Regions from separate parts of the Homo sapiens genome. Here region 2 is linked to region 1. Evidence: fine-mapped expression QTL. A gene starts in region 1. The other region holds a variant in brackets. All regions are shown on one strand. Distances are between the middles of the regions.

Region 1 (4,381 bases):
GAGTGTTGTCTGCTGGGACAAGGAGAAACTGAGGCCCTTTGAGAATCATGAGATTCTAAGAAAATCTCAGCCTGATTTTCATAGGCAGATAGTTCCCAATTACCAGGATCTGTGCTAACACAACCTATGGGAGCCAGAGGACAAAGGCAATGACACAGGCTGGGACCAGCTCTCTGAACGCAGGGTAGGGGAAGAGGCTGATTCTGATGTCCCAGACCAATCCAGCCCAGAGGGAAAGGAGCTGTACCCTGCTTGGGGGAACTGGAAGGGAGTAAGACTAGACCTGGGGCAGAAAGTCATTTTCTCCATTCTCCACCAGGGAGGTGCTCTGCTGGATCCCAGAGGTCACAGCAGCTCTGCCTCCCTCTCACCTTCCTGATGTGGTCCAGGAACTCAGGCGAGGAGAGACAGTCCTCTGGGCTGGAGAACTGGCGGCAGTTGTACTGGAAGAGGGGCAGCAGGTCAGGCTCCAGGGCAAACAGCCTGTGGGAGTGAGGCCCAGGTGTTAGCCCTGGGGTGTGAGCTCCTGCAAGCCCCAGCAAGCCTGGCTGTCCTGCAGTCAGCGGGCGGGGGTGCCAAGCCAGGTCTCAGCTGCAAACCACAGCTGACTCTCCCACCTGGCACTGCTCCCCCGCCAGCTTCGGTAGTGCCCTCCTCCTCATGCCTTCTACTGGCTCTGGGCAGCATCCTAGAAAGGGCAAATGTGTCCCAGGGCCTCTGGTAAGCAGGGGTCCCTCGGTGAATAGCTGAGGGGTGTGATTTGGGACAGGAAGAGGTCCCCAAACAGGAAACCTGGAGTTACGTTGTGTGGAGAGGAAAGCCCTTTCTCTCTCTCTCTCTCTCTCTCTCTCTCTCTCTCTCTCTCTCTCTCTCTCTCTCTCTCTTCTCTCTCTCTCTCTCTCTCTCTCTCTCTCTCTCTCTCTCTCTCTCTCTCTCTCTCCCTCTCCCTCTCCCCCCCCCCCCCCCCCCCCCCCCCCCCCTGCGCTGAGTACTTTCCGTGTGGTTAACTTTTAACTGTATTCCTCACTGTCCTAAGCAGTGGGTACAACTGTTATCCCAGTTTTATAGAGGAGAAAACAGAAGCCCGGGGAGGCTAGAACTCGCCTAAGGTCACACAGCTTGGATGTAGTGCAGCCACAGCGGGTGCCTGAGAAAAAAGTGAGCTGGGGGGAGTCCGGAGGCAGAAGCAGAGGCCCTCCTCGGCATTTGGGAGGTCTCACCGGGTAACTGAATGTTTTCCCCTTTTGTCTTGGGGGTGGTTTTGCGGAAGCCTGGGTAGAAGTTCTGGACTGTCCAAGGGTGCCAAGGATAGGTAACACCACGGTGAGGGAAGCAGTGCCCGGTTGGTGATAGCGGAAGGGTTACCAAAACTGCGAGCTGAGGTTGGAGACTGGCCTTCCCTTCCCACCCGGCCTGCACACCCCCCACCCCTCTCCCCTGCGGTGAGGCTCCCGCATCTGTCACCCCTTCCCCGGCTGCTCTCTGGCTCTTTCCTCGGAAAGGTTTGTCTTGTTGGTTGTCAGGGATCCACACACCTGGAGCCAGACCGCTCACACGCGGGCGCAGGAGCTCGCCCCACACATCTCCCTTCCCCGGCTCTCGGGGCACCCCAGTACCCTGATACCGGCAGCGGGGTGCACCCCTGCAGTCGCTACCTAAGGAAGACGCAGGAGGCACAAGGCGGGGTGGAGGCGCCGCGCAGGGACGGAGGTCCACCCGCCCAGATGTGGGGAGATCCGCGGGAGGGGATCCCGCCCGGCCCGGTGAGCCCCGCTGGGAGAGTGGTGTGCGGCGCTGGTTGGCAACAGGCGCCCACGGTCGAGAGAGAGGCAGAGGGGCTGTGCCACCCGTCGCCGCGCCCCGCTCCTCTGGCGCACATCTGGCAGGCGCCCCAGCGCCCCGGCAGCGGCCAGTTTTCCCTCCTTCGGGGCCGGTCCTGCCGCGTGACCCCTTTCCCGCCGAGGCAGCCTCCACCCGCATCCCCGGGCGCTCGTGTAGCCCTCACCTGGCAAACAGGACGGTGCCGTGCTCCAGCGGGCTGCGGCTCACTGCCCGCCAGCTCTGCCGGATCAGCTCGGGCTCCGGGCGCTCCATGCTGTCCCGGGGACGCGGAGCGCGGGGCTGGGACCCTCAGGGCTCGGGTGCCGTCACCGCACGTGCCGCGCCATCTCCTCCGCGACGCGGTCCCCTCCGCCCCTCGTACGCCCCCCGTGCCTCCGCCCGGCGGGGGCCGCAGCCGCTCCTTCCCTGGCGCGGGAGAGAAAAGGCGCGCGGCCAGTCGTAGGTGGAGACACCCCAGCTGTGCTTCCGGGGACCCCGCTTGGCCGCTGCGCCCTGCGCCCCGCAGCCGCCAGAGCCGCCCCACCCCGCGACGCCTGGGCTGGGCGCTTTAAAGCCGCCACGGCCCCCGCCCCCTCCAGGCCAGCAAGGCGCGCGCTCCCTCCGCCAGCCGCTATGGTGGCCTGGGAAAGGCCCGGCCTGCAGAACGTAACTGACATCGCGGAGGCTCTCTGGGCCTCAGTTTCTCCTCCCGAGCCCCGAGGGCACTGTGTTGAATTTGGTCGCCTCAGGTAGGCGCTGCATGCGCCCCCTCTCCACAGGCCCCTCAACTCACGCATTGCCAGAGGCATTTGAGTTTGCCACCCACCTGGCCTGCAGGTCAGGCCTGGGGAGGCGGCCTAGGGGCCTAGTTCTCGGTCTGACTAGGGCACCAGCACACGTTGGGGGCCACCAGGGCTTTCAGCCGTAGGGACAGGGCCAAGACCACAGCCATTCCCAGCCAGGCCTGGGTTTTTTTGAGACTCCATCTTTAGAAAGCCGTGAGATCCAGTTCTAATCCCAGCTCTGCTTGGCCAGGGTGGAATCTTGAGGGAGTTCAGCTCTAACATTCTACCGTTCCATGATTTAATTTTAATTTTAATTTTAATTTTTCACCTCTTCCCTCCCTGGGCCTTCCCCACTTCCATGATTTTTCATCTTTTTGTTTGTTTGTTTGAGACGGAGTCTCACTCTGTCGCCCAGGCTGGAGTGCAATAGCGTGATCTCGGCTCACTGCAAGCTCCGCCTCCCGGGTTCACGCCATTCTCCTGCCTCAGCCTCCCGAGTAGCTGGGACTACAGGCGCCCGCCACCACGCCAGGCTGATTTTTTGTATTTTGAGTAGAGACGGGGTTTCACCGTGTTAGACAGGATGGTCTCGATCTCCTGACCTCATGATCCGCCCACCTCGGCCTCCCAAAGTGCTGGGGATTACAGGCGTGAACCACTGCGCCCGGCCTTTTTTTTTTTTTTTTAACGGAAGTACTGTTTAATTTTTTCAATAGAAGTTCAGATAATAGAATCCATGCTCCCCACTCAGGGTGTGCAATTGGCCACCTGCCAATTACAACTAAACTTTTCTCTTTCAAGCAGAAAGTTCCTCAAGCCCCAGCCCAGTGCTGGTGGCCCAGGTTTGGGAGAGCAAGCCCGTTTTCACCTTTATTTCTCTCTCATTATTCCCTCAGGGGTCTCCGAGCCTATCTCCTCTGTCTGTCCACGCCTCTCTGGCCCTGTTTCCTCAGTTGTGCAGCAAAGGGGTTGGGTGGTGAGGTCTCTGGGACCTTTTAGTCCACCTCCTTTAGTTCCATGGGTAGAAGGTGGGTGTTCTTGAGCCCCTGGTTATGAACAGCTGGGGCTCCATGCCCAGCCCTGTGCTAGACATGGAGTGGCGAGTCCTGGTCTTTAAAATTTCTCCTTCTGGCCCTGAATCAGAACTGAGTGCCTCAGCAGAACTTTTCTTTCCTACTCCTAGCCATGCCCCAGGAAATCATCTAGCTGTTCTCCCTCTTCCAAGGACTCAGGAGTTTGTGGTAACCCCTATTCTATTTCCCATTTCCTCACAAATCTCTGGGCTGGAGCAGGAGAGCAAGGCTATAAGGCAGCCTGGAAAAGCTGGTGTCCTAGGGTCCAAGAGGTCTCCAAGCAAGAACACAAAGTGATTGGGGCTGAAGGAACAAGACGTGACTAAACTTCCAGCTTGGGGTCCCGTGGACCTGCAGCCAGGTGCAGCAGGTCACAGGGCAAGGACACGTGTCATTGGTGACCTTCACTATTCAGTGCCCAGATGCTCAGTGCTCTGTGCAGGCCACCTGGCTGGTCTCAGGTACCCCACTCTACCCAGCTCACGCTTCTTGCCAGCAATCTATACTTAGGACCCATCTTGCTTCCTCTCTCCTCTGGCCAGGGTCTGGAGTCTGATGAGGTAGTGGGAGTTAACGGCCCTAGCTAGTAAGTAGAGTCAGTACTCAAACCATGGCTTCACTCTTTGTCTTCCTAGAGCCAGGAGATATGTGCTAAGATAAGCCAAGGTAAGTGCACTCTATCCCTGCTCCCTTCAAGAAAGG
Region 2 (4,381 bases), 54 kb before region 1:
ACAATTATTCACCTGCTACACCCTCAACCCTCTTGTGTTATGCTCATACTTGCTGGGGGGAAGCCTCTACCCCTACTAAGTCTTCCACACCTGCAACCATACAGGTGAATCCAGCACAGCAAGTCTGGCTGCTCTCGTCAATTCAAGATCATGAGCCTCCACAGGCCCCATTGTTGCCTGGCAATCCTGCTCCATTTCCGTAATCCATCCTCTCTTATTCCCCTAGACTTCTATTTCTACCTTTTTTTCCTGTCACCAAACATCCAACATCCGCCCACCACCACCACCTCACACTGGGCTGAGACCTCATTCCTTCTTTTACTGAGAAACCTGAAGCAAGGCTGGGCATGGGGGCTCGCACCTGTAATCCCAGCACTTTGGGAGGCCGAGGTGGGTGGGTCACCTGAGGTCAGGAGTTTGAGACCAGCCTGGCCAACATGGTGAAACCCCATTTCTACTAAAAATACAAAATTTAGCCAAGTGTAGTGGTGGGCACCTGTAGTCCGAGCTACTCAGGAGGCTGAGGTAGCAGAATTGCTTGAACCCTGGAGGCAGAGGTTGCAGTTAGCCAAGATGGTGCCACTGCACTCCAGCCTAAGCGACAGAGTGAGACTCTGTCTCAAAAAAAAAAAAAAAAAAGAAAAGAAAAGAAAAAGAAACTAGAAGCAGTAAGGACAGAACACTCACTGGCTGCCGCCGCCACTCCTGGGACCAGCCAGCACCTGAGCATGTGTGCTGCCTTCCCTCCCACTCACCCAGCCAACAGCCTGACTCTCAGTAAACATCTCCACTGTGCACTAGTTCCCAAGCCTCCCGCAGTCTCACTTTGCTCCAGCAGTTCCCCCCTCCTCCTACTTCTTCTACTGAATCATTCCCACCACTATACAATGTGTTATTTTTCCCGTCTTAACCACTTTCACCTCCAATTACTCTTCCAGAGAGCTGTTTTTGCCCACTGGCTCCAATTCCTCTCCTGTCATTCTCTCTGGAGCCTATTCCAGTCTGGCCACCTGCACATGGCTTAAACCATGGCTAATTTGGCTGGGCGCAGTGGCTCGTGCCTCAAGTGAAAGAGAGATAGAGAGGGAGATAGAGAGAGAGGAAGGAAGGTAGAAAAGAGAGAGGAAGGAAGGAAGGAAGGAGGGAGGGAGAGAGAGAGAGAGAGAGCAACCATGGCTCATTCACAGTTGTCATCTTTCTTGACCACATCAACACTGGTTCCTCCCTCCTCCTGGAAACATTGTCTTCATTCAACCCAGGACACCACCCTCTCCTGCTTTTCCTCCTTCCTCACTGGCTGCTACTTCTCAGTCTCCTTCTCTGTTTCCTCCTCCCCTGCCCTGTAGATATTGGCGCACCCCGAGGCTCCCACCTTGGATCTCTCCTCTCACTACATTCTCTTCTGTAATTCAGGGCTTTGCCTCGAAGAGTTGTCGCTATGCCAGTGGCTTTTGTCTCACATTTATGTCTCCAGTCTCTTTTCTGAACTGCAGACTAACCTATCCAAATCCCTGCTCCCCGTCCCCACTTAGCATGTTCCAAACTCAACTCTTGGTTTCACCCTTGCACGCACTCCCCCTCCACCTCTACTGTCCATTTCCATCCTGCACTTTCTGCCTCTCCCATTCCATAACAGCAACTCTATCTTCCAGTGGCTCAGGCCAAAAACCTGAGAGTCATCCTCGACTCCTCTCACTCTTTCACATCCCCT[A/G]TCTAATCTGCCGGCAAATCTTGTTGGCTCCACATTCAGAATATTTCCAAAATCTGAGCACGTCTCTCACCTCCACTGCGCCCATCCCAGTCCAGGCTACCATTGTCTCCTGCCCGGACCCTGGCCGAGCTCTCCGCATCTACTTCTCCACTTGTTCACCCCTCCTGCTCCCCCACCTAGTCTCCATATGAGGATCAAAGAGATCTCATTAAAGCCTGTAATCCCAGCACTTTGGGAGTCCGAGGCAGGAGAATCACTTGAATTCAGGAGTTTGAGACTAGCCTGGGCAACATAGTGAGACCCTTGTTTCTATCAAAAAATTTTAAGAATTAGCCTGGTGTGGTGGCATGCACCTGTAGTCCCAGCTACTCTTGAATATTGCTTGAGCCCAGGAATTGGAGGCTACAGTGAGCTATGATTGTGCCACCGTGACAGAGTGAGGCTCTATCTCTCTCTTAAAAAAAAAAAGTCATTTTAATTCACTCCATGGCTCACTCCCCATGCCCTTTGCCCTGCCCTGTGCAGCCCACTGGTCTGCTTGCTTCCCCAACTCTCCGGGCAAGCTCGAAGCCCAGGGCCTCTCCTCCACTTAAAGTGCTCTTTCCCCAACAGCTGCATGGTTCACTCCCTCAAGTCCTTGCTCAGATGTCATTCTCTCAGTGAGGAATTCCCTAATCACCCCTTTACAATTCTAACCTCACCCTCATCCCTCCACTTTGTCTCCCCAGTAGAATCCCACAAGGGAGGGATTTTTATTTATCTTGTTCACTGGTGCATTTGTCTAGCATAAAGCAGTTGCCCACCAAATATTCAAATGCATCAATGAATGGATGAATGAGTCTACTTTTCTCGAATGGAAGTGAAGGGTTTCCAGGTAGAGGTGAGGTCTGAAGGCAAAATGAATGATCTTTTGAGAGAACAACCACCTTGCAGATAAGTTCAAGTAGCTACCGGACACCTCCCATTTTCACCTGCCCTTCCCACTGTTATCCATGCCTGAGGAATGTGATGCCAGGGACGGCAGGCTCTGCATTGGTGTCTCACCAAAATGTTCAGGCTCACGGAGTTGGCTCAGGTCCCTGGGCAGGTCCTGGTCTCCCTAGTTCAAATGCCTGGAAGACAGAGACCTTTCTAAGCCAGGCATAGAAATAACAAACTCCACATATTTCCAGCTATTTGTGGGGGCAAAAAAATTAAAACAATTGAACTCATGGAGATAGAGAGTAGAAGGATGGTTACCAGAGGCTTAGAAGGATATGAGGGTGGTGGGGAGTGGGGATGCTTAATATGTACAAAAAACAGAATGAATAAGATCTAGTATTTACTAGCACAACAGGGTGACTATAGTCAAAAATAATTTAATTGTACACCTTAAAACAACTGAAAGAGTATAATTGGATTGTTTGTAACCCAAAGGATAAATGCTCGAAAGGATGGATACCTCATTTATCCTGATGTGCTTATATCTCATTGCATGCCTGTATCAAAACATCTCAGGTACTCCATAAATATATACACCTACTATGTACCCACAGAAGTTAAAAAAAAAAGAGGGGGGTGTTTCTTGAGTCACTGCACATGCCAGGCACTGCATTCCCTAGGAGCTATGGCCCTTACCATGGCTGGATGGTGACTGCATCAGAGATTGCTGAATGCAGAGATGATTGTCATTGAGCCCCGTCTGCATGGGCGTTCCGTGAACACAGCGGTTTTGACTTCCAACCTGAACATTTCCACACTGGGGTCTGACCCACATTTGTGAAATTTGTTCATTTATATACAACAAAAACTTCCCAAGGTAGAACTGGAAAAATGCACATTTGGATGTGCATTTTACAACTCTTGTTTCAGGGATCCAGTGGTACAAAATAAGAACTCTCCCAGGAAACGAGAACCAGTCTGTCATCCCGGCCTTGGGTTTGAGGCAGCTGTTCTCTTGCAGGACAGGGCTGTGTGCCGTCTCGTGGGCTGGCCCTCCTGTCTTGGGTCTGAAGTGGCCTAGCCTGGCCGAGGCACTCGGTGCCCATCCCACAACTCCCCATCGGGCTTCTGTGTTTTGCAAAATGCAAGGGAGTCTTTGCATCTGACCTGGATGCCCTCTGTTTCCCAGGGATCCTCCCAGGATGTCTGCCTCACCAGACGACCTGAGTACAGGGGGAAGGTTACAGAACATGACAGTGGATGAATGCTTCCAGTCTCGGAACACCGTCCTCCAGGGGCAGCCCTTTGGGGGTGTCCCCACCGTGCTGTGCCTCAACATCGCCCTGTGGGTGGTGAGTCCTGGGCACTGCAGGAGGCAGACAGTAAAGCCTCAGACAGGGTCGAACTTTCACAGGTGATGCAGTGGGGGACCCAGTTGTCCAAATGGACAACAACAACATTGATACAAACTGCCTGAATGTCAGTCCTGCCTAGGGTGGCCCCGGTAGGTGGGCCTCAAAGAGGCTGGAGGAACAGGCAGAATTCCTGGGATTCTTTTCTGTGCATCATTGTCCAGAGGTTCACCTGGCCTCCTTCCTCTTTCTCATTGCTGAGGTCTTCAAGGCACATTCTGGTCCCATAGATCTGAACATGCCTCCAGCTCCATTCAATGAACTCTGAGCATCCACTCTGTGCCCAGAAGCTGCTGGGCGCTGGCAACCTACAGTTGAAAGGAATGGCCCCTACTCC

Direction of the effects. Alleles are on the strand shown, and positions count from the first base shown. SD is a standard deviation of normalised expression in the study named.
For the expression in cerebellar hemisphere of the gene that starts at base 2,363 in region 1, G is the low allele of the variant in region 2 and A is the other (small effect, 0.31 SD a copy in GTEx).

What was found. PIP is the estimated chance that this variant, and not a neighbour inherited with it, causes the effect. A credible set is the group of variants that fine-mapping cannot tell apart.
Region 2: its variant is the best candidate, but not a certain one, in a credible set for the expression of NGB in cerebellar hemisphere (GTEx, PIP 0.86).

Annotation. Positions count from the first base shown.
Region 1 is chr14:77,268,844-77,273,224 of GRCh38, forward strand. It overlaps NGB (neuroglobin), which reads right to left and starts at 2,363. Exons shown (of 4, transcript NM_021257.4): 1 at 2,006-2,363; 2 at 372-483. The coding sequence starts at 2,094.
Region 2 is chr14:77,214,980-77,219,360 of GRCh38, forward strand. TMEM63C (transmembrane protein 63C) reads left to right here. Exons shown (of 24, transcript NM_020431.4): 3 at 3,822-3,984. The coding sequence starts at 3,835. Among named protein-coding and RNA genes, the nearest start is that of TMEM63C, 35 kb to the left of the region's middle. The variant A/G (reference allele first, on the strand shown) is at 1,712.